Homo sapiens: one gene and its partners. The protein of the gene in region 1 purifies or fractionates together with the protein of each later gene. This does not show direct contact. Each region holds a gene or a part of one and is shown in the gene's direction. Other genes may lie near its edges. The genes, in order: TAGLN2, PSAT1, MTHFD1L, NAXD, FKBP1B, FABP5 and ACAA2.

Region 1 (2,448 bases):
GAAGGGCAGGGATGCTTCTCTTGGTTTCTCCTCAGAACTCAGCCACCCCACCCCGCCTGCCTTCCCCAAGCTGATGGTGTGTGTGCCTGGCGCTGTGGGTCGGGGCCCAGACTGACATTTATCTGGCCCAGCTTTCGGGCTGGGGGAAGTGGAGGGGGCGGGTTGCTCTTAATGAGGTTTAAAAATAACTGATTTAGGGGAGGATCTGCCGGAAATGTGCAGCTTGATAAGCTGGGGTAAAAAGGAGCAGCCATGTTGGAGTCGGGACGGGAGGGACTGGCCCAAGACACAGCCTCTGCGGCCGAGAGGTGTTGAGGGTTTGAGGCAGGCTGGTCCCCTTGTATTTCGCAGAGCCCCAAGGTCCATTGAGAGGGGGTGACGGGATTGTTTAACCTGGGTGTGTGGGAGAGGGGGAGCTGGAGTGACTTCATCCCTGAAGGCCAACCTGGCCTGGAGCCAGATGTGGTTAGAAGGGGTGGCTCTCTTTCTTCCCCTTGAACGCAGATGCCTGTCCTGGGGGTCCCCTTTCGTGAGCAGCCTGACAGCTAGCTCTGTTTTGGAGAAGAGAGAAAAGCCAAACCAGGGTGGGGATGGGACAGAAAATGGGGACTGTGGCCCATTCTTGGTTCTTGGCTCCCCTTGGCATCCATACCATGCCCGGGTCTTGCTCAGCCCCTGAGTGTCAGACCCAGGTGGTGAGTGTGGTGGGAACACACTGCCACAGTGAGGTCCGCCAACTCAGGCCATTGGTCGGGAAACCACCCAGTTCTTGCTAATCAAGCTCCTCCAACGAAGTTAAAGAAACCCTCCTGTGTATTTCCCCGTCTTGCCTTCTCTTCTCCAGGTTTCCCCAAAAATATCACCCAGGGCTCCTGTATTAGTTTCCTATTTCTGCTGTAACAAATTGCTACAAGCTTAGTGATTTAAAGCAACACAAATACAGCATCTTACAGTTCTACAGACTCAACAGGGGTCTCACTGGCTAAAATACAGGTGTTGGCAGAGCTGTGTTCCTTCTGGGGTTTTTGGGTGAATCTATTTCCTTCCCTTTTCTGGCTTCTGGAGGCCACCTGCATTGCTTGGTTCATGGCCCTGTGTGACTCTGACTTCTACTTCCATTTTGTTGTTGTTGTTGTTACTTCTCCCACTCTGACTCACCTATCTCCCACTTTCAGTTAGTAAGGCCCTTGTGATTACACTGGGCTCATTTAGATGATGCAGGATAATCTCCCCATTTCGAGATCTTAATCACATCTACGAAGTCCCTTTTTGTCATATAAGATAACAATATCCACAGGTTCTGGGAATTAGGACATGGACACCTTTTGCGGGGGCATGATTCTGCCTGTCATAGCTCCTAGAGGGGAAAGTAGAATTTGTTTTTATTGCCTGGTTTTTCATAGGAAATTCGATTTGTTTGCTGAAATCCCTCAAGGACCTATTCAAGCCTACCTCTTCCAGAAAGCCTTCCCAGGCTGCTTCTGCCCGTCTGCTTCTTTTAACTCCTACAACATGTGATCTGAACTGTGCACTTTAGTATTCTTTGTGTGCAATCCTTACCTGTTCATATGTACTCACTTTGTCTCCCTGATGGCACTGTGGGCACTTGAGGACCAAGGACTTCTACTATCTCTTTCACAATCCCTAGCACAGATAGTAGGTGCTCAATTAAAATCCAGTGGTTTGCACCAACCTAGATGGTTAAAAAAAAAGCAAAGAAAACCCAGAGGTTGAGGGAGGGTAGATCCAACCAGTTTCCTAAGCTGTTCCACATTCCTCCTCCTCTCCCCAAATCATTCTCTTTCCCAGGGCTATAAAGAGCAGGGTTGCATTTGGTAACAGTTCTGGTCCTCATCCTTGGGGCTCACCGTGGGGGAAATGGTGTATATCCCTGCAGGCAGAATTCCTGAATTCCCCACTCCCCAGGCTGCAAGGTGTTGACCAAAAGCCCGGGTGTGTCCTCTCCCTAGCTCCCCGCAGCCACCGCCACCCATTGGAATGGCCAACAGGGGACCTGCATATGGCCTGAGCCGGGAGGTGCAGCAGAAGATTGAGAAACAATATGATGCAGATCTGGAGCAGATCCTGATCCAGTGGATCACCACCCAGTGCCGAAAGGATGTGGGCCGGCCCCAGCCTGGACGCGAGAACTTCCAGAACTGGCTCAAGGATGGCACGGTGAGAGCCGGGCCCCACTGGCTTGGAAGTGCAGGGAGAGCAGGACTGGGTCCAGTGGACTGGGGATTGTTTAACCTGAAGAGGAGAAGACTGAAGGCACACATGTCCCAGCCTCTTCCTCAGCTTGAAGGCCTTTGTCAAGGATGTGAGAGGGCCCATGCTTTCCTCCCTTCCCGTGGAGTGGAGGGTAAGGGTGAATGTGCCTCCCAGGCAGTGGAAGACTGAGGTGACACTGAGGAAGAATGTCTCTAAGGAAAGAACTGTGGGAGG
Region 2 (3,500 bases), on another chromosome or scaffold:
CTACTTTTGCAAAGATGAGCTAAACGGATTTTTTAAAAATCTTCATTTTAGCATCTACGTCATGGGCTTGGTTCTGGAGTGGATTAAAAACAATGGAGGTGCCGCGGCCATGGAGAAGCTTAGCTCCATCAAATCTCAAACAATTTATGAGATTATTGATAATTCTCAAGGATTCTACGTGTAAGTCAATGGATTTTATCTCCTATTTTGCCTCTTGTGAATTTAAAACTGTGTATATACTGTGTACCTTTGAAAAGTGGACATATTCACCTTTCTCTGAGACATTAAAATACTGGTGAGTGTGTGTGGTCCTGGGCCCCATGAGCAGGGGAGTGGGTGGTGAGTTCTTCCCTCCTGTACCTCACCCTGGGGCTCTCAGGCTTTGGGACCTGTGTCCCAGTGGGTGGTGATGTTTCTCACACCAAAGACATCGCCCTGGGGAAGAATCTCAGTTCACTCCCTGGGGTAGGTCCCGTCTACTCCCTCCTTTGTATATCTTCTGGGAAAAAAACAAATGTACTTTCTGAAATGTGTCAATTTAAGGACTCCTGTTAGCGATCTTTGGGACAAATACTCCTGTCCTCCTCTTCTGCGTTATTTCCCTTTTTAAGAAAATTCACTCCTTTCCTTATTATAAGACAGATGCTGTTATCCCAGAGTCTGTGAATGGAATTGGCTTTGGCATGGGCTGACTCCAGTTTAAATATTCCCATGAACAAATGATTAATGAGTATGTCTTAACCACTGCCCCTGCACCTGGGAATTCTGCAGAAAATGTCTGGGTCTTGTATTAGTTTCCTGGGGCTGGTGTAACAAAGTACTACAGACTTAGTGGCTCAAAACATCAGAAAACTGATTCTCACTCTTCTGGGGCCAGAAGTTCAAAATCAAAATGTCAGCAGGGTTTTGGTCCCTCCAGAGAGCCATGCCTTGCCTCCTTTAGATTCTAGTGGCTCAGGGTGGTCCTTGATTTGTGGCTGCATCACTCCAGCCTCCACATCTGTCTTCACATGGCCTTCTTTCTGCCGTGTCTTCCCTTCTGTCTCTTAAAAAGAGAGGTCTTTGGATTTAGGGCCTGTCCAGATAATCCAGGATCATCTCATCTCGAGATCCTTCACATAATGACATCTGCAAAGTCCTTTTTTTCCAAATAGGTCATATTCACAGATTCTGGGGGTTAGGACATGCGCATACCTTTTCAGGGTCACCATTCAATCCACAACAATAGGCCCTTCACCAAAATGCCAGATGGGAAGCACCTAGTGCGGTGCCTTGGATGCAGAGAAGTGTAACAGGTGGTATCTTCATTTGCTTTTCCCTTTCCCTTAAGGTGGTTACAGGTATACAAAGACCAGACTTCCTGCTGTGTACATGTATGTGCGCCTACACATATACATAAATGCTTAAACTCACCAAACTGAGAACCCCCTTCTTAGTGGCCATTGCTCTTTGGGGTTCAGTCTATAGTAACAAAAATATCTGCTTGATGGTAAGTTGGAAATTTGCCCTCTCTCAGATAATTCAGTGGCCACATGGGACCGACAAAACGATGCCTCTGTCCTAACTTAGGATTGTACTTTTTAGCCAAGACTTAACTAACACATCTCCATAACCACCCATGGGCGGGCAGTGCTGGTGTACTTTTTGGATGGCATGCTGCTGTCACCTTTGTTCTTGCAATGCTTGTTGCCTGTTTCTGTGAGCTCTTGACATGCAGTGGCCCTCCTCCAGCTGCAAGCCCAGGGGGAGTTAGGCTTGGCGGGATGCCTTGGCCTTTGGGCTCCTTTCCCAGGCACCATCTCAGGGAAGGGGTACACACTCTGCATTACTGCCTGTTCTCTGGTTCTGTGCAACAGAGAAGCAAGTGCAGGCTGGGGGCTCAGTGCTGGGGAAGCTTCCACACTAGACCTTGATGTGTGAGTTTGGAGGCCAGGATACCCTGCCTGTGCTCACTGAAGCCATTTAAAGTGCACGATCAGCAGTAGGTATCCAAAGATTTCATAGCCAAGGGCTAAAGAATGTGGCATGAGCCTGGAAAAGGGGGATACTCTTTGGTTGGAGTGAAGAGAGGGCTTTTGCATGAGCTTATTATGAGCCCTGGTCATGAGTGGAATTAGGCAGAGAAGAGGGCAGAAGTACTTTTAGAAAGGTTAGAATCATCCCCGCAAAGGCACTGAGGGAAGAGTGTACAGTGTGTTTGGGGAGCAGAACATGGGCTGCTTGAAGGGCATGGTTTATGCTGGGATTGGGAAGAAGGTCCGTGGAAGTGTGTGAGGGCGTGTTTAGTCCACCTATTTATTCATTCATTCATCTACTCACCCACCCATCCACCCACCTACCCATCTATCCATCCACTCATTCACTCATTCATTCATTCATCCATCTGTCTACCCATTCATCTATACATTCATCCACTCATCCACTCATCCATCCACCATTGACCCACCCATCCATCTATTCATCTACCACCTGCCTACCTATCCATCCATCTACCCACTCACTCATCCATCTATCCATCCATTACCCACCCATCCTTCCACCCACCTATTCACCCATCTACCCATTCACCCATCCACCCATCTATCCACCCGCCCATTCATTCACCCATCCACTCATCCAGACATCCATCTGTCCACCCATTCATCCATCCATCCATTCATCCATCCACTCACCTACCCATCCACTCATCCATCAATCTTCCATCCATCCATCTATCCATCCATCCATCCATCCATCTGCCCACCCATCCATCCATTCACCCACCCATCCACACACCCACCTATCTATCCATCTACCTACACACCCACCCATCCATCTATCCATCCATCACCCACCCATCTATTCATTCACCCTTCCACCTATCTACCCATCTATCTATCCATCCATCCATCCATCCACTCATTCATCCACCCGCCCACCCACTCATCTGTCCATTCACCCTTCCACCTATCCGCCCATCTATCTACCCACTTGTCCATCCATCCATCCATCCACTCATCCATTCTCCCACCCACCCATCCACCCACCCACCCATCCATCTATCCATCTGTCCATCCATCCAACCGTCCATCCATCCATAAAATGGCTCCTGAGGACCTGCTCTGTACACTAGCCTTGTTCTAGGCTCCTGGAAGACCGAGAAGAATAAATCATCTTCCCTGGCTCCCTAAAAAGTGCTGAGAACCTGAATGTGAGTAAAAGCACTTGGTGGGTATAGTGGACGGGAGACCAATTTTTCTATTAGCTTTTAGCTCTATACATTTCTCAGGAGATGTGTAGACATGATGTTAGAGGACAGAAAGAACGGTGATACCACTGGGAAAAAAATTAAGGGCATCAGGAACAAAATAAGAAAGCATAGAAGGAATTCTGGGACTCTCCTGAATCCCCCCCCGCCACGCCTAGGTCCTTTAACTCCAAGCACTAAACCTGGGCCTCTCCCAGAAGGCAGCCTGCCAAACTAATGTGGCAGGCAGGTCATCTCCTGGGCAGGTCATCTC
Region 3 (3,500 bases), on another chromosome or scaffold:
ATAAAGCTGCTGTCTTGTATCCAGATTGACCATCAGTATCCTTATGCCCTTCAACTAACTTGAAATTTGTCAGTTAACAGAAATTACTGGGTGGCACTAAAATAAATTATTCTTAATATAAAGGGTAAGAAAGGGTCGGGTGTGGTGGCTCATGCCTGTAATCCCAGCACTTTGGGAGGCCAAGGTGGGCAGATCACCTGAGATCAGGACTTTGAGACCAGCCTGGCCAACATGGCAAAAACCCGTCTCTACTAACAATAAAAAAAAAAAATTAGCCGGGTGTGGTGGTGGGTTCCTGTAATCCCAGCTACTTGGGAAGCTGAGGCAGGAGAATCGCTTGAACCCGGGAGGCGGAGGTTGCAGTGAGCTGAGATTGTGCCATTGCACTCCAGCCTGGGGGACAAGAGCGAAACTCCATCTCAAAAAAAAAAAAAAAAAAAAGAGTAAGAAAGGATCTTCCATTGTAATCATACTATCATTGCCTTTTGAAACAATTTGGAACCTGATTACAAAGTTGAAAATCCCCATCTGTATGAAGAAAAGCTTCACTGGCTGGTCACCTTGGCTCAACGCCTGTAATCCCAGCACTTTGTGAGGCTGAGGCGGGTGGATCACAAGGTCAGGAGTTTGAGACCAGTCTGGCCAACATGGTGAAACCCCATCTCTACTAAAAATACAAAAATAAAAAATTAGCCAGGTGTGGTGGCAAACACCTGTAGCTACTCAGGAGGCTGAGTCAGGAGAATCGCTTGTGCCCGGGAGGCAGAGGTTGCAGTGAGCCGAGATCATGCCGCTGTACTCCAGCCTGTGCGACAGGGCAAGACACCATCTCCAAAAAAAAAAGCTTCACTGTGAGTTATGATATGGGAAGAAAAGTCTTGGCCTGGCCACCACAAGGAATCCCTCAGGCCTGGCGGTGGGAAGCAGAGGAGGGCGCAGTCTCTTTAGGGCAGAAAGTGAAGAACATTTCTATGACAATGGGGAAATCAGTTCACCTTTGTGTTGGTAAACAAAAGGAATGTAAGCTGTCCTTTGAGCTCGAATCATAGTGGTGATTGCCAAAACCTACCTTTGTTTTTAGAAGATAATAGCACATATTCCACTTGCTTCCCCACAGTGACCGAAGCTGGCTTTGGTGCTGACATCGGAATGGAGAAATTCTTCAACATCAAGTGCCGAGCTTCCGGCTTGGTGCCCAACGTGGTTGTGTTAGTGGCAACGGTGCGAGCTCTGAAGATGCATGGAGGCGGGCCAAGTGTAAGTGCCCACACCGCCTTCCTAATACCAAAGAAATTTCATTATGTTAAAACAGAATTGAGCATTTGAAAAATTCCTGCCCATTTAATGACTATAGTTTTCTAGAGTATTTTTCTTAAAACTTTTTTTTTCCTGTAGACCTCCCTCGTGGACATCTAAAACGTTTTTTGTTTTGTGTTGTTTTTTGTTTTTTCCCAACACCACCATAGGGCACTTTGAGTTTAGTAAGTTCGAGTAAACAGTAACACCCACAGTTCTTTCTAAACAATATTTTGGAAAGGAGCATAATGCAACCACTTTTTAGTCTCAAGCTTCACATCTGATACTCAGGCCAAGATTGTATAACCATATGGTAATGGGAGGTTAGAGGCTCTTGTCCCTGAACGAAGAACAAGAGGATTAGAGTGAGTTCTTTGATGACAGAGATTTTTCATTGTTTGTACAGATAGTTTTTCGGTTCACTGATGCTGCAACTCATCAGATTTCATCTAAAACTATTTTCCTTCTCTTTCTGTTTATTATGATTTCTCCTCACAACTCTGTTATAATACTGGATTGTTTCTAAGAGCTTTGCTTGGAAAACACAAATTCGATTTTAACTTCTTTAAAGACTTTTTATATTTACCTATCCTAATATATATAGAAATTACAGACATTATAAAGGAAATATATTCCTTTCCACAGAAAACCTGTGCATAGATTTTTGGGGGTTTTTTTGTTGTTGTTTGCTTGTTTGTTGTTTTTTTGTTTCATTTTTAGGAATTTCCAAGTGGAGAATAAGACATTTTATACTGATTAATCATTTTGAAATAAAATAAAATTTCTCTATCATAATATTCACATATGAGACGAACTGCCAAATCTGATTTCTTAATTGGTATACTGTACTGTGTATGTGACAAAAGTCATATATTCAATGATTATTGCATAGTCAAAACAAGTAGCAGGTTTGCCATCATGAAACGCTGTAAAGCAATTCTTTCTCCTGGGAGAGGTGGACATGATTTTTATACCATTTTACAGATAAGGAAGCTGAGTTTTGATAGGCTTAGGGAATATGGACAATGTCAGCAGGCCAGCAGAGAGCCGAGAACTTCAGATCTAAATCTCCTACTATGTCCACCATGCAGAGCTGGATGTTAATGAAGGGCAGAAGTTTTCTAAATCCAAATCCACTCCTAATACCCGACACTTAAGCACTTCATTTTTGCCTAAAGCTTCATCATCATTTCAAATGCAAGAATGATATAATACAGATTAAAAGTAGTAAATCATAAAGAATTCTGACTTCACTCAAAACACCCCTTGTTGCTACAGTCCTTCCTGGATTTTAGACATTGAATCTGTATAACAACTTCTATTTTTAAAAACTACTTCCGCCCATGTAGGATGCATTTGGAATTCTCCCTCCCTGCCCTGCCACCCTGAAAATTATAGAAAGGGCTTAGAGATTGTCTGATCTCATTCAGTCTTTATAAAGAGAAAATCTCTGAGGCACAGGGAGACGCAGTGACTTGAGTGGTGTCACACATCTATTTCAGGGACTGATCAGATCTACAGTCCTGGTCTCTTGACATCAGTCCCATAGTTTTCCAGACTCTGGTCTCTGTCCTGTAAAAATTCTCTACATGGTTTACAATCCTATTTCATTCATCTTAACATATGTGCTCTGTTATTCAGTGGTTGCACTTTCGTGCCACATTAATCCTTTGTGTCTCTTCCACTGCTGCTTAATGTCATGGTTCTCAGCCAGTGATCATGGTAACATGGAACAGGGTTAGTAGGCACAGATATGGGTGGAGGATAAGAAAAGGTGGGGACCAGCCAGGCGTGGTGGCTCATGCCTGTAATCCCAGCACTTTGGAGGCTGAGGCAGGTGGATCACCTGAGGAGTTCAAGACCAGTGGTGGCGGGCGCCTGTAATTCCCACTACTCAGGAGGCTGAGGCAAGAGAATCGCTTGAACTTGGGAGGCAGAGGTTGCAGTGATCTGAGATTGCACCATTGCACTCCAGCCTGGGTGACAAGAACAAAAGTCCATCTCAACAACAACAACAACAACAAAAAAAAAAAAAAAAAAAAAAAAAAAAAAAACCAGCAGGGACCAGGAAGCCCTGTGAAGCTAGGCATCCCTCTCCTGGGCTCCAGTAGTACCTTCTGCCTCACATTGTTTCATGAATGCCTTGTTCTGTGTCTCCCTATGTAATTCTCAATTCCTTGAGTTTAGGGACTGTGTCTTATTAA
Region 4 (3,500 bases), on another chromosome or scaffold:
GACACAAAGGTTCTCCACGTCCCCATCAGATTAGTTAGATACAGAGTTTCGACACACAGGTTCTCCAAGGCCCCACCAGAGCATCTAGATACAGAGTGTCGATAGGTGCACTCACAAACCCTGAGTTAGACACAGAGTGCTGATTGGTGTATTTACAAACCTTGAGCTAGATACAGAGTGCCGATTGGTGTATTTACAATCCCTGACCTAGACATAAAGGTTCTCCAAGGCCCCACCAGAGCAGCTAGATACAGAGTGTCGATTGGTGCATTCACAAACCCTGAGCTAAACACAGGGTGCTGATTGGTGCACTCACAAACCCTGAGCTAGACACAGGGTGCTGATTGGTGTGTTTACAATCCCTGAGCTAGATATAAAGACTCTCCACATCCCCACCAGACTCAGGAGCCCAGCTGGCTTCACCCAGTGGATCCCGCACCAGGGCTGCAGGTGGAGCTGCCTGCCAGTCCTGCGCCGTGCGTTCGCATTCCTCAGCCCTTGGGTGGTCGATGGGACTGGGTGCCGTGGAGCAGGGGGTGGTGCTCGTCGGGGAGGCTCGGGCCGCACAGGAGCCCATGGAGGGGGTGGGAGGCTCAGGCATGGCGGGCTGCAGGTCCCGAGCCCTGCCCGGCGGGAAGGCAGCTAAGGCCCGGTGAGAAATTGAGCACAGTGCCGGTGGGCTGGCACTGCTGCAGGACCCAGTACACCCTCTGCAGCCGCTGGCCCGGGTGCTAAGTCCCTCATTGCCCCGGGCCAGCAGGGCTGGCCGGCTGCTCCGAGTGCGGGGCCCGCCAAGCCCACGCCCACCCGGAACTCCAGCTGGCCCGCAAGCGCTGCAGGCAGCCCCAGTTCCCGCTCGCGCCTCTCCCTCCACACCTCCCTGCAAGCTGAGGGAGTGGGCTCCAGCCTTGGCCAGCCCAGAAAGGGGCTCCCACAGTGCAGTGGTGGGCTGAAGGGCTCCTCAAATGCCGCCAAAGTGGGAGCCCAGGCAGAGGAGGTGCTGAGAGCAAGCGAGGGCTCTGAGGACTGCCAGCATGCTGTCACCTCTCATTTTGTTTAATGTTTTCTATTTTAATGTTTTGTATTATCAGGTGTCTGTCAAGTCAGGATCACTTTACATGCTACTGCAGTGTATAATCTTGTCACAATGTATTGGCTCATAATAATAAAAACCACCAAATATTACATATATGTGTGTGTATCTATACATGTAGTTTTTTTTTTTTAATAGAAAACCTTTGAAACCTTCACTGTAATCCTATCAGGGAAAAATGATTCCCTGTTTATTATTGTTGTTATTTTAAAACGTGTAAGTAAAGTGATATGAAAAATACATAATGACTAATGATTTGGGGAATTCTCAGGAATTCAGATTTCCTGCCTCCGAATGCTGCGTATTAGTATCTGTTGGAGAACTGGATGCCCTTGCTGGGGCGGGGGCTGTCTTCATGGGTTAGCCTAGGAGCCCAGCTGTTGTTCATAGCGTTTCCAGTGGGCTTCGCCTTTCAGAGTTCCCAGTGTCCTGCCTTGTTTACGGGCTCTGCGAGTTCATTGGGTCTTTCTGCTTCTCTATTTTATTCATTTACTTGATTATTTTCCATTTATTGTTTGATGGCCTGATGTTGCATTTTATTAAGAGTCTGCTCAATTTTCTGTCACTCTTGGGAAAAGTGTCTTAGTCGGTTTTGCGCTGCTGTAGCCGTACCACAGACTGGGTAATTGATAATGAACAGGCGTTTACTGGCTCACAGTTCTGAAGGTGGATGTCCAACATCAAGGTGCCGGCATCTGGCGAGGGCAGAAGGGCAGGAGAGAGACCCTTATGCCTCTTTTAAAGGTCATTAAACCAACCCATGAGGACACTGCCACATCACCTTTTAAAGGCCCCACCTCCCAGGACCCTTCCCTTGGCAATTAAGTTTCACCATGAGTTTTGAGAAGACACATACCCACACCATAGCAGCAGGCATGGTGCTCAGTCTGGTTTTCTCTTCTGGCAGGGCATTTTGGAAGTGTCAAAGGCCAGGGACATCCCTGTTGTCATCGACGCGGTGAGTTGACTTCTCTCCTCCTGGCTCGGACTCCCGGAAGGCCTGTGCAGTGAGCACGGCTCCTTGTTCTGTGCAGGATGGCCTGTGGCTGGTCGCTCAGCAGCCGGCCCTCATCCATGGCTACCGGAAGGCTGTGCTCACTCCCAACCACGTGGAGTTCAGCAGACTGTATGACGCTGTGGTGAGTCAGTGGACCCCCTGGAGGGTAGATGCAAGCCCTGTTCGTCCTGAAGAGGGTGAAGGACGAGCTCCATGCTTCTGCCCAGCCTGTCCCTGTGGACACACCTGCAAGTAATCGCTGTGCCTCTCCCAGCGGATGGCGCGTCTTCCCATTAATGCGCTTGGATTGGATGAACGATGGTGTAGTGGGCTTGGGACAGGCAGGGACTCGGGTCAGTCAGCCCCTCCTGCAGTGCACTCTGGACAGGTCACTTTGTCTGTGTCCTGAGTGCCTCATCTGTAATGTGATGATGGCATCAGCTTCACGGGGTTGTGAGGATGAGATGAGGAAACCTATGTAAAGCCGTGAGTCCCCACATGGTAAGTGTCCCATCAATGTTAGTGCCCAGTACGACTGGAATTTGTATTACTCCTGCAAAGCTCTCAGAACCCAGTCTTGGGTGGTCCTCCTTCAGCCTGCTCTGATGAGGTAGAGGATGGGCACTGGAGCAGGCACCGTGTCAGCACCTGCTCGGAGGACTCACTGCAGGTGATATCCTGGGCATCCTCCCACCTACATGGCCTTTAACAGGTGCCTGGGTGATCCCTTTAGACACGAGAGCATGAGTCTCATGGCGGATGGGACAGGGCTATCTGTCGTCGTGTGTCTGAGGAAGACTTTGCTTTTTCTCTGTCTTCCTGTGTTGTCATAGCTCAGAGGCCCTATGGACAGCGATGACAGCCATGGATCTGTGCTAAGACTCAGCCAAGCCCTGGGCAACGTGACGGTGGTCCAGAAAGGAGAGCGCGACATCCTCTCCAACGGCCAGCAGGGTGAGTGGCGGCTGCCCTCTGTGCATGGGCCAGTGCCAGGTCAGTCAGCATGGCCACACCGAGCATGAGCCCTGGAAGACCTCTCCCGTGCACACCCGTGTTCACACACATTCACACAGGGATTCCTGATGAGCTCGTCAACCACACTTTCTTCAGAGTCCATGTTTTGACTTTTCACTGTTTTGCCAGGGGAGGTGACAGTGGTGAGGGCAGGCTTTCGAGCCGTGGGCCTTACCCGTTGGTTGAATTCCCTTGCCTCAGTTATGAGAAGCAGTCTGGCGGGAGGGTGCCTGCAACAGCAGGGCACAGTGCAGGGTCCCGCGTCTCCAGCTGCCACCTTCATCTCACCTGTGGCATCCACCATCCATGCAGTTATTTGGGTATTTTATTGCATTTCATTCTCTTTTATCAAAATGACTGGAAAGTGCAGAAAGCCCCGAAGCTGATGCTGGTAGT
Region 5 (3,500 bases), on another chromosome or scaffold:
AGAATCTCTTGAGCTCAGGAGTTCAAGGCCAACCTGGACAACATGTTAAGACCCTGTCTCTACAAATTTTTTTTAAAAAAATTAGCTGGGCATGGCAGCATGCACTTGCAGTACTAGCTACTCAGAAGGCAGAGGAAGAAAGATTGCTTGAGCCCAGGAAAGGTCAAGGCTGCACAGAGCCGAGATCATGCTGTTGCACTCCAGCCTGGGTGACACACTGAGACCCCTACTCTTAAAAAAAAAAAGTAAACTCTAAAAGAACAGGGATAGAGATCTTGTTTGTAGTGTTCACTGCTGTATCCCTGTGATCAGGCACAGGCTTGGCACACCATAGGTACTCAGTAAATATTTGTGGTTTTGTTTTGTTTTGTTTTGTCTGTTTGTTTATTGTGACAGGGTCTTGCTCTGTCACCCAGGGTAGAGTGCAGTAGCATGAACACAGCTCACTGCAGCCTTGACCTCCTGGGCTCAAACAATCCTTCCACTTCAGCTTCTTCAGTAGCTGGGACTATAGGTATGCGGCACCACACCCAGCTAATTGAAAAGATTTTTTTTTTTTTTTTTTTTTTTTAGAGATGGGGTCTCCCTATGTTACCCAGGGTGATCTAGAACTCCTGAGCTCAAGTGATCCTCCCACCTCAGCCTCCCAAAGTGCTGAGATTACAGATGTGAGCCACCATGCCTGGCCTCTCAGCAAATATTTGTAAATTATTGTGTTTATTCATCTTTGATGGATGGATTATAATCTGCATTGTAATCTGGTATTTGTGTGTCTGTTTCCCTACCTTCCTCATGAGTTCATACATTGCTCTGCATGTCTGAAGTCTGGTCCAGGCCTGGCACATAGGAGGCCAACTGTAAATGTCTGTGGAATGGATGATGTGAAGTAAAAGGGGCAATCAAAGAAAGTGGGGGTGGGGTGGTGGGAAAGCCCAGGAGACAGCAGAATTGAGAAAATTGAGGGGGTAAAGTAAATCCAGGCCAGAGAGGTGACGTGATTCATTCTGGCTCGTACAGGGCCCAGAGCCAGAACTAGGGCCACAGGCATCTCCATGGCATGGAGGGGAATGCAGGCTGGAGCTCTTGGTCAGGATCATACTTAATGTCCCAGGTGTTTTTCCAATATCCTACTCCTTCATCTGCCCTCATGTCTCCCTGCAGGAAGGACATTCCCCAAGAAGGGCCAAACGTGTGTGGTGCACTACACAGGTAAGTCTCACCCCCTCAGCCCCCACCCAGTCCTTCCCCTCCCAAGGCAGGGCTGTCCTCTGAGCTTCTCTCCAGAGGTGCCTGCCTCTGGATCAGGGCTAAAGCCCAAGGCAGCAGGGTCTCCCTGTGACCAGCCATCCTCTACTCCTCCCAGCCAGTCTAGTGGGAATGATAAAGGAGGCTTGGAAGGCCAACTCTTTCCCTCTTCTACCAGCAAGGGCCATCCATGGTGCCAGCTTCTAGGTGAGTCAAACACCTTCAGTCCCCTTCCTTCTGTTGCAGGTATGGTGGAGCCCCTGTCCCTGCTGGGTCTGTCTGATATTTGGAAATCCCTCCTAGAGCTCCCCGCAGACTTTCTCTCCATCCTGCAGTATCATTAGAGAAGAAGAGGAGGGGAGAGGACAGACAAGTCACCCAGAGGCTCCGATGCCATTTGAGGGGTGGGGTGATGGCAGTGCTTTTCTCTGGGTACTGAGGGAGCCCAGAGCGGGACTGATCCCAGTTGGATGCTCTTTATCTGCAGGCGAGGTAGAGTGAGTTCTTCAGGACTGCTGGCAGGAAGATCATGAGCAGGTGTTTGTTCCAAGGGAGGTGAGCACCCTGCCTTGTGACCTGCTTCCTAAAGTGGCAAACTCGATGACAGCCACTTAGCAGACAGCAAGCCCAGGTTAATTCCTAGGACATACTCGGATGGGGCCATTTTTAGCAGTTCTGTGGGCCAGTGTGAAGCACAAGGTTAATTCTAGGCAGATGGTGTGGATGTTTTCAGCAGTTGTGTTGCTGGTCGCTGATGTCAGTGGGCTGGACCATGTTTTATCTCCTGGTGATGTGGCCTAATTACCATGGGTCGTCTGGGGCCTCTGACCTGTGTAATTGATTTAACAATTTTGCATGTTGTAGACAGACCAGTATTTATCAAGTTACTGAAACCACAACATCCTTTTGCAAAGTCCTTTCACAATACATACATAGGGCAGCAGCTCCTGTCTTGGGAGAGACTATGTCTTATCAAACATAGCGGGAGACTATGGGACTTTTGGTAAACTTTAAAGTTAAATATAAATATAGTAGAGAACATAATGTAAGATGTCTAGGTCAATGAATTTTTTCAAAGTGATCACATTTATGTGACTACCACCTAGAGAAGCATAGAACATACAAGCATAGAACCAGCATCCCCAAAAGTCCCCCTGATGCCTTCTCCCAGTCATTTCACCTCCCTAGAGGTAGCTATCATTGTTTTTCTTTTTTTTTTTTTTTTTGTCATTGTTGTTGTTGTTTTGAGACAGGGTCTCACTCTGTGACTCAGGCTGAGTGCAGTGGTGATCACAGCTCATTGCAGCCTCGACCTCTCGGGCTCAAGTGACCCTCCTGCTTCAGTGTCCTGACTAGCTGGGACCACAGACATGAGCCACCATGCCTGGCTAATTTTAATTTTTTGTAGAGATGAGGGTCTCACTATGTTGCCCGGGCTGGTCTCGAACGCCTGTATGCAAGTGATCCTTCCACCTTGGCCTCCTAGTGCTGGGATTACAGGTGTGAGCCACTGTGCCTGGCTGGCAACTATTACTCTGACTTTTGTCTCCATGGATTGGTTTTGCCTATTTTTGAACTTCATCTTAATGGAACCACAGCGTAGGTACTCTTTTGTGTTTGGCTTATTTCACTCACTATTATGTCTGCGAGATATATCCAGAATGGTTTATTCCTCTACAGTATTTTAACGTACAAGTATGTTGCAATTTATGTATCCTCTCTACCGTTGATGAACATTTGGGTTGTTCATAGTTTTTGTTTATTACAAACAGTGTCACTTTGATCAGTCTTGCAGGCATCTCTTAGTGTACATGTGTACAGACATATGTGCATGTTTCTGTTGGGTATATACCTGGAAGTGGGGTACCTCCTGGGCTCAGCGTTAGCAGTACTGTCTGACAGCTTTCCAAAGTCGTTGTGCCAGTTTCCACTCTAGGCAGCTGTGTAGGAGACTGCCAGTTACCCTGTGTCCTCCCCAACACTTGTTATTGTCAGGTTTTGGTTTTGTTTTGTTTTTTCTTTTTTTGAGACAGAGTCTATGTTGCCCAGGCTGGAGAGAAATGGCATGATCTTGGCTCACTGCAACCTCTGCCTCCTGGGTTCAAGCGATTCTCCTGCCTTAGCCTCCCGAGTAGCTGGGATTACAGGCGCCCGCCACCATGCCTGGCTAATTTTTGTGTTTCTAGTAGAGACGGTGTTTCACCATATTGGCCAGGCTGATCTCAAACTCCTGACCTCAGGTGATCTGCCTGCCT
Region 6 (4,253 bases), on another chromosome or scaffold:
ACTCAGCTTCCCTCAGAACACGAATATTTTCTGAGCAGTAGGGCCTCGGGTGTGGGACATGCAGACCCTTATTGGGAAAACAATTGAGTGTTAAATGGTACCACAAGGAAGACTGGTGTGACCCTAAACTGAGGGCAGGGACTTGAAATGAAAGGGATGCAGTTCAGGGGAGTACATGTCCTGCAGCATGTTGGGAGATAGCAAACCAACCTCAGATTTCAATTTTGTCAAGGATGATACAAGAACTAGTAGTGTCTCGGTGACTGTGGTCTACTCAGAGCTCCATCACAGCTACCCTGAGCCCAAGGCAGTCAGGTGTGGTCTGATTTCATAAGGTCTTCAGTGAGACGGACCTGGATGGGGATTCTGGTTCTACCACTGTGAGAACTATCTTTGCCCTATTTTCTCTTTTGAAAAATTGGGATAACACCCCTAGCAAAAATATAGTGGAGACCAATGTCTATAAAGTGCCCAGGAAGCACATCTAGCACTTAGTAGCTACTCAATAAATGCACATTACCGCTATCGAAACGGCCAGCCTGTGTGGCAACTTCCTCACCTCAGTCCATCTGACTTCCAACAGGCACCCGGGAGCACCAAGTAATAAATTGTGAAGAGTACACTTTGAAACGTATCATGTTCTACGCACATGTGTAGGGTATTATTATAGTTCAAGAGAAAGAGGGAACCCGCTGGTGTCTGAGAAGAAACCCGCTGGTGTCTGAGAAGAAACGGTGAAGGGTGCACTACGAAGGGAATATAAACTAATCAAACATTCTTGAATGGCAATGACAGTCACTAAAGTTGACACTTCCTGCAGTCTTTTAGTTTAGAAACCACACTTCCCGAGACGTCCCCCATCCCAACAGGGATAAAATCCTCTAGCTCAACTCAGGTATATCCCCACTATTGGGCCAGGGAGACCTGCGGATGGCGAGAGCAGGTTCTCTTAGGAGGGTGTGGATTGTGAGCTTGTGCGCTGGCGAGGAGCAGAAGGTCAGGGAGGCACCGTAGTTAATGAATCAATAAACCAAACAGCCGATCAATCACTTCCTGCAGTCCGAGTCCGGCGAGGGCTAATCGATTGGTCCGGGTATTTTGAAAGGAAAAACGGCGGTGGATATGTTGTCAAACGGAGGGGTGCAGGAGAGGCGGGGCCAGGCCTCCAGGTGACCCCTCTGGCTTCCTGGGCCTGCAGAGGCGCCGAAACGTGCAGGCGCCGGCGTCCATGAGGCGTGGGGCGCGCCGGGCGAGTCCCTGCTTGCAGGAGGCGCCCGAGAGGCCGTCGCGTACCCTGGCAAGAGGAGCTGGTTAGCACCTCCCGACCCCGAGAAGGCCCAGGGGGCGCCCGGCGGGCGGGGCGGGGACCGGGCGAGGCCCGCCTCCCATTGGCCGCATAGCGCCGCCCAGCGCGGGCCGCCGTTATAAAGCAGCCGCCGGCGCCGGGTGCCTCACAGCACGCTGCCACGCCGACGCAGACCCCTCTCTGCACGCCAGCCCGCCCGCACCCACCATGGCCACAGTTCAGCAGCTGGAAGGAAGATGGCGCCTGGTGGACAGCAAAGGCTTTGATGAATACATGAAGGAGCTAGGTGAGGCACCCGGCCTGGCAGCGCCTGCAACGTGGCGTGTTGTGCGGTCGTCTGTCCCTAGGTCCCCGTCAGCGTGCCAGATTCTGGGGCAGGAGATGCTCGGCGGCCTACCCCCATCCCCTCCCATCTTCCCCACCACGCGGCCGTTGGGTGCAGCGCGCGCAGCACCACGCGGGCAGGCGGCGAGGAGCAGGGAGCGTGCGCGCCTCTTGCCCGCCCGCGGGCCGCAAGATTCCGGAGGTGGTCCACCCCGTGGTCCACCTACCTCTGCTTCTTTCCCTTCGCCCAAACGGCAGCCCTTCCGCATTGCTTCCTGTCCTTTAGCGCGCGCACCCGTCACCTCACGCTGCACTTCTTTCGACCCCCTCCAGGCGACCCTGTATTTCCCTTTTTTCCCCCTTTACTCATCCTTCCCCTTCCTGCCACCATTCTGTCTCTCCCATTTACCCCATCGTGGCAGCACCCACTCCCCTTTCCCTCCCTGTCGCATCTTTTGTTCCCTGTGGCGCGCAGGTCACCCTCCGTTTTCTTCATGGGGACGCGGTGCTGGCGCGCAGTTTCCCGCAGAAATCCTGTGGAGGGGTCTGAGTGGCGCTACAGCTTCAGCTTGCATTCCTCTGTCAGCCCCGTCTCCCCCAGGTCCTCTGCTCGCCCTTACCAGTTGAGCCGAACCCTTTGGATTGGTACCCCATGGAACACCAGGGCCCCCGAGAAGCGTGGCGCTGGCGGTGCCGACCTGCTGCTGGCACTGCCGGGCCGGGGCGCCGCAGTGGGCGGGTGGCCTGTGGGAGGAGCGCAATGAGGCCTGGGGGTGGCCGTGTGTTGCCATCCTGGCCTCTGCCACTTGAGGGTGAGGAGGAAGGAGGCAGTGGGCTTTGCTGGAAAACCGTAACAGAAACTGCCTGGCCCTCCTGCGGCTAACTGCATGCAAGATGGGTGTGGCCCTGCAGAAGGCAGATGACTTCTTGAAGCGTTCCGAGGGAGAATGAATCTCAGTAGTAAGATTCATTTCTCACTCAAAACAGTGCTTCATTATAAATTACTGTCCTTTTCTATGCCAGTGACAGATTGCATGCTGATTGAGACACTGGATAAATTGCAAACAAAAATGGACCTTTGTCACAGGCCACTAGGAAGTGAGATGGAGTTAGCATAGCATGGATCCTCTCTGGAAGGGAGCTTCCAGCCCTAAGGGATGGCTGGGATTTATGAGGGTGCTTCAGAAGCCGGTATCCACAAATGTTAACCCGGTTGCTCGCTGGTGAAATAACTACCGTGACCCTCTATTGATACCTGGTCGCCGTGGCACTTCGGAATCACTCCTTCAGTACCCTTTATCCAAGACCATGTGGTGTTAAGGCTGGTTTATGGTGAATCATGAGTGTATTTTTGATACTATCAGTAAAGAAGGCAGTATTTTTCTTTTTCCTTGTAAACCTACATCAAGATGACTCTGGAAAAAGCGATTTACTGCACCTGTCCAATAAATAACAGTGTGTGTGTGTGTGTGTGTGTGTGTGTGTGTACAAGTTTAAGGCCCAAAGAACACTTTTCTCTGCCTGTAGAAAGCAAATTGTGTGTAGGTTTGGAGGGCTTGTTTCCAGGATTCTGGAGTCTTGAAGGTTGTCAAGACTCAGTTCATTAGGGAGCAGTCACAATGTGAAAAGAGCAGAGCCCATTTATTTGTCCAAAGTGAGAGTACATAATGACTCAATTAACAGCATAAGGCACCAGCCCTGAGCTGGCAAAAGAGAAGGCTCCAAGGGGAACTTTAAAGCCTGGCTGGGTGTTCTTCATCAAGACAATCATGCTGCGTAGGTTGTAGTCTCCTCATTTATGAAACAGTGATTTGGCCTGGATCTAAGATTCCTTATACATGTTAACTAACTCTAAGGGGAAAGAGATAGATCATAAATTACATGTTAACGTTGAGGGGAAATTGATAGATCATAAATTAAAATATAATTTAATATGTTATATATTTCTATTGATTTATATACCTATGAAATAGTTTTTATATTGAAAGGTAGGATTTTTTTTCCCATTTGTTAGCATCATGATTGTGCTGCTGAGTTTTAAAAGATTGTGCTATTTGAATATCTCAGGATCAATTTCTATTTTGTGTAGTCTATTAATCAAATATTTATCGAGAACATTTATATGCCAGACTGTGCTGGAGTCATAGAATGTAATGGTTGGCAGAATCTAGTAAAAAGAAAAAGATTGAGCAAACTCCTGAATTTGCAATTTTGAATGCTTTATCTCCACCTTCTATCAACTGCTTTGAGTAAATAAAATTTGGAAGTCCACATTTCTTCCCTAACTTTCTGAAAGCCAGCATAGCATGGTGGCCAGAGCTCAGATTTGGAGCCAGGGTGCCAGTGCTCTTGGTTCCCAGCTCCATCACTTTCTAGTTGAATGATCTTGGGCAAGTTACTTCCGTGCCTCGCTTTCTCATCAGTAAAATGGAGACAGTAACATCTGCCTTTTACAGGGCTGTTGTAAGGCTTACCTGAATTTCATATATGTAAAGTGCTGGCTCATACCGTGGGATATATGTTTACAATAGTTATCAATAAGCAAATAAGTGAAAATATGCCGCACAAAGTGATTACAATGGAATTATTGCTTTTATCATGTAAATGATAACTTTGGTCTTCC
Region 7 (3,500 bases), on another chromosome or scaffold:
ATTTTATTACAAACAAAATAAGAGCCAGAGGCGTATTTTAATAAAACAATTTTCACATTAATTTGTTTCTATAACGATATATCTTAAATAGTGACCTCGGTTTTCCTAGTAATAATTTTAAGAACCATCAGGTTCATAGAGGCTCATTATTTGCTCCTTTTCTGAGAAAGGCAAACAGTGGAAAGTGTTGGAAGAATGAAGTGGTTTCCTTTTTATGAGTCACCTAGATTGAACTAGTTCTTGTAAATCTCTGTTCTTGTTCAGATACATCCATTAATGGGATAAATTTTTCTTTTGCCTTTTTAAAGGGTATGTCCTTTATTATCTGCTGTACATTTATGCCAGGTATTAATATCTGTTGATTTTCAAGATTTATATTGTGTTAAGAATTACTATTCTTAGCCACATGTAGGTAGGGCCTGTTACTCAGGCAAACATGATTGAAACCTTTTAGTTTTCTCCTCCTACATCTTGGTAATGGATACTTTAGCATTTGCTTTACAGTTACTTTAAAAGCATTTCCTTTTGAGACACTGTAAGCTACAGTACAATATTTGTTTGATTTACCATTAATTTGTAAAATCAGTGTGTTTCTTAATACATTGTTTGGGTACGGTAAAAGGAGTTTTTATTACTGTTTGTTTTTAAATAGGAAATTTGTGTTAAAGAAGCTGAAGTTGTTTTATGTGGAGGAACCGAAAGCATGAGCCAAGCTCCCTACTGTGTCAGAAATGTGCGTTTTGGAACCAAGCTTGGATCAGATATCAAGGTTGGAACCATAAAAATTTAAAAGAATTAGTTCTTATTAGCATTATATAAGTACTTTTAATAACATACCTTTTTATGGGAGAGAAAACTAATTTTGAAGCCAATTTCGTTGATGAGGATTGGCAAGATATGAATGATTAGAAGTTTGTAAACTATTTCAAAACTCTATTTTGGTGGTTAGTTTTGACATTTTAACCCATATGAAATTAGATTCTATCTATCTCAGCAGACCTCTAGTAGTATAATTATCCTGTGTAAGTGGCCATAGGCATGGGAGAGATGGAGGAAGGGAAGAAGTGGATTAAAAAGATAGACAAAAGAGTGAATTAATCTCACTACTAAACAATTAGTAATCTGAGTAATTAAATCTTTAACGTGACTTATAGAAGTTTTATTTCTGGGACAGTCTCAGAATAGATTTCTTCATCATCACAGAAAACATCTTTGAATACAGATTATATTGTCCCAAATCAAACAAAAACTGATTCTTTTATCTTTGAGAGCTACAACTTGAGAATGATGGTACAGTACTGATAAAGAATGATGTTTTCTTCTCATTCCCATGTGAAAGGGCTACTGACATTTTATATTTTTTAGCATTTTCTATAGTAATGTTTGACTCACACTGTTCACCCAGTTTCTCACCTGGCCTTTTTGGAAGTTGAAAGGAATGGGACTTAAGAGAATCTATGCGGATTTTAGCCACCAAACACATTTGAGATATCTTTTATGAAGACAGGTCAGTGAGTTAAATGTTGATGAGGCAGCAAAGTGGGGCACACTTACCAGAGACTAACTACTTGAATAATAATTAACAACCTTTCTGTAACTCTGGGAACCTGTCCCAAGATCTTTTCAGCCTCATAGTAACCGATAGAACCAGCTATTCCTGTCACTGAGGCGCAGGATGAAAAAGAAAAACAGATAATACTGTTTATTACAGAGCTCAGGGCTGGTTTACAAAGATGGCTATAAGAAAACATTGCATGAAGACTCATTGTCAGGTTTTCTACAAAATATGACCTTGAGGATTTAATTTTTGATCGTAGGGTAACTTCTGTGATCTCACCATGCACGTCTAGTCCTGTTAGCTGTTCTTAGACCCCCACATTTAGAGAGGGACAGAGAATGTGTGCATTTTATTTTGTGACATTGAATGTTTTCAAAAACATTGCATGTTTTTAAAAAATATCCCATAACTGAATATGAATAGTGGTTATCAGAAAGTCTTAATTTTACTTTTGTTTATTGGAAGTGTTGATTATTTAAAGAAATTATAACATATTACTTTTAAAAGGAAATGCCTTAACAAGTCACTTTATTAATGTCTTTTAATAGCTGGAAGATTCTTTATGGGTATCATTAACAGATCAGCATGTCCAGCTCCCCATGGCAATGACTGCAGAGAATCTTGCTGTAAAACACAAAATAAGCAGAGAAGAATGTGACAAATATGCCCTGCAGTCACAGCAGAGATGGAAAGCTGGTGAGTGAAACTGGAAAGTATCAGTATCTATAGAATAAATATCTATAGGAAATATTTTCATCATTTCTATTATGGTTATATAATATTTACAAATCATACCTTTAAGAATTATTACATCTTTTCATTATTCCTTTGTCTTTAGATGATCAGATATTTTATTAATTATTGCAAAATTAACTAGGAATTTCTCTTTTGAAAAAGTTAGTACTACTTAAAAAGTGGTATTGCTACTTGACCCTAGATGGACCCTTGAGTTTTGTGCTGAACTGGTCCTGTTGTCAGTAGAACATGATGAGGAATACGATACGTTCTGTCAGAGGTGATAGCTCACTGTGGCAACTGGAATATAGAGGATGTCCTCTCCCACAAGCCATATCATAATCATAAGAAGGGGTAATGTATTTGGAAAAGACCCACTGGGTCTTTTATGCTTTCCTTCTGCCACTCCTAATTAAGAATCATTGTACCTAACTCAGAGACTTAGAACTAGTCCGAGACTCTAGTTAGAGTGCCCTGGTGTAGCACAGCAGGTTGCTATAGAGCCGGTCCAAAACAGGCAAATGTGACAGCAGTTCTTTTAGCAGTGCAGCAAGTTGAAGAAATGTGATATTTAAAAAATTAAACTGTTAAAGCAAGTGGAAACTCTTATTTAGGAATATTAAATGCTTGAAGTAATGAGGATAAAGTCCATCTTAGCATTTCAGAAGGATAAGTGGAATAGAGCTGATGCCATCTAACTCGTGTGTTTTTTTACTTATATGTTCATAGTGGAAGAGGATTGGTCTAGAAGTCAAGAGTTATCAGTTCTGTTTCTACTTCTACCACGCACAAGTTATCAAGCTCAGTCATATCATTTATTCACTGAACCTCTGTAAGATAGAGATAACAATATTTGCCTTCCCTATTTATCTAATAAGGTTGTTTTAAAACCAAATAAGGGCATATAAGGAAAGTATTTTGCCAATTGTAAAGTGATATGAAAATTAAGGTTAGTATTATTCCTGACCCTATTTCCAAAGCTATAGATTACTACAGTACATTCTAGTCAGTGGAGGTCAAAGTAGGTAAGATGTTTTACTTATAATTGTATTAGTGATTGCTCCCATAATTTCTTCAGGTTGCCTATCACTATTAAGTTTCAGTTAGATTACTTTGTGGCATAGACAACTTGGTAACTTTTTAATTGCTTATCTCACCAAAAGAAGTTTAAAAGGGGTATTAAGTCCATTTATTGCCATTACATCTA

The links.
Region 2: the proteins of TAGLN2 (region 1) and PSAT1 fractionate together in Homo sapiens (co-fractionation; one large-scale study listed by BioGRID). This does not show direct contact.
Region 3: the proteins of TAGLN2 (region 1) and MTHFD1L fractionate together in Homo sapiens (co-fractionation; one large-scale study listed by BioGRID). This does not show direct contact.
Region 4: the proteins of TAGLN2 (region 1) and NAXD fractionate together in Homo sapiens (co-fractionation; one large-scale study listed by BioGRID). This does not show direct contact.
Region 5: the proteins of TAGLN2 (region 1) and FKBP1B fractionate together in Homo sapiens (co-fractionation; one large-scale study listed by BioGRID). This does not show direct contact.
Region 6: the proteins of TAGLN2 (region 1) and FABP5 fractionate together in Homo sapiens (co-fractionation; one large-scale study listed by BioGRID). This does not show direct contact.
Region 7: the proteins of TAGLN2 (region 1) and ACAA2 fractionate together in Homo sapiens (co-fractionation; one large-scale study listed by BioGRID). This does not show direct contact.

The regions. Positions count from the first base shown.
Region 1 is NC_000001.11:159,920,060-159,922,507, reverse strand, and holds part of TAGLN2 (transgelin-2), read left to right. Parts: intron 1-1,970; coding exon of another isoform or gene 1,971-1,998; coding exon 1,999-2,178; intron 2,179-2,448.
Region 2 is NC_000009.12:78,317,625-78,321,124, forward strand, and holds part of PSAT1 (phosphoserine aminotransferase), read left to right. Parts: intron 1-51; coding exon 52-180; intron 181-3,500. UniProt on the Homo sapiens protein: Involved in L-serine biosynthesis via the phosphorylated pathway, a three-step pathway converting the glycolytic intermediate 3-phospho-D-glycerate into L-serine.
Region 3 is NC_000006.12:151,008,702-151,012,201, forward strand, and holds part of MTHFD1L (monofunctional C1-tetrahydrofolate synthase, mitochondrial isoform 2 precursor), read left to right. Parts: intron 1-1,117; coding exon 1,118-1,257; intron 1,258-3,500. UniProt on the Homo sapiens protein: May provide the missing metabolic reaction required to link the mitochondria and the cytoplasm in the mammalian model of one-carbon folate metabolism complementing thus the enzymatic activities of MTHFD2.
Region 4 is NC_000013.11:110,632,545-110,636,044, forward strand, and holds part of NAXD (ATP-dependent (S)-NAD(P)H-hydrate dehydratase), read left to right. Parts: intron 1-2,000; coding exon 2,001-2,051; intron 2,052-2,127; coding exon 2,128-2,232; intron 2,233-2,923; coding exon 2,924-3,044; intron 3,045-3,500. UniProt on the Homo sapiens protein: Catalyzes the dehydration of the S-form of NAD(P)HX at the expense of ATP, which is converted to ADP.
Region 5 is NC_000002.12:24,052,741-24,056,240, forward strand, and holds part of FKBP1B (peptidyl-prolyl cis-trans isomerase FKBP1B), read left to right. Parts: intron 1-1,161; coding exon 1,162-1,209; intron 1,210-1,363; exon of another isoform or gene 1,364-1,452; intron 1,453-1,732; exon of another isoform or gene 1,733-1,876; intron 1,877-3,500. UniProt on the Homo sapiens protein: Has the potential to contribute to the immunosuppressive and toxic effects of FK506 and rapamycin. PPIases accelerate the folding of proteins. It catalyzes the cis-trans isomerization of proline imidic peptide bonds in oligopeptides.
Region 6 is NC_000008.11:81,279,083-81,283,335, forward strand, and holds the start of FABP5 (fatty acid-binding protein 5), read left to right. Parts: upstream 1-1,453; 5' UTR 1,454-1,513; coding exon 1,514-1,592; intron 1,593-1,857; exon of another isoform or gene 1,858-1,962; intron 1,963-2,250; exon of another isoform or gene 2,251-2,342; intron 2,343-4,253. UniProt on the Homo sapiens protein: Intracellular carrier for long-chain fatty acids and related active lipids, such as endocannabinoids, that regulate the metabolism and actions of the ligands they bind.
Region 7 is NC_000018.10:49,793,034-49,796,533, reverse strand, and holds part of ACAA2 (3-ketoacyl-CoA thiolase, mitochondrial), read left to right. Parts: intron 1-652; coding exon 653-769; intron 770-2,106; coding exon 2,107-2,254; intron 2,255-3,500. UniProt on the Homo sapiens protein: In the production of energy from fats, this is one of the enzymes that catalyzes the last step of the mitochondrial beta-oxidation pathway, an aerobic process breaking down fatty acids into acetyl-CoA.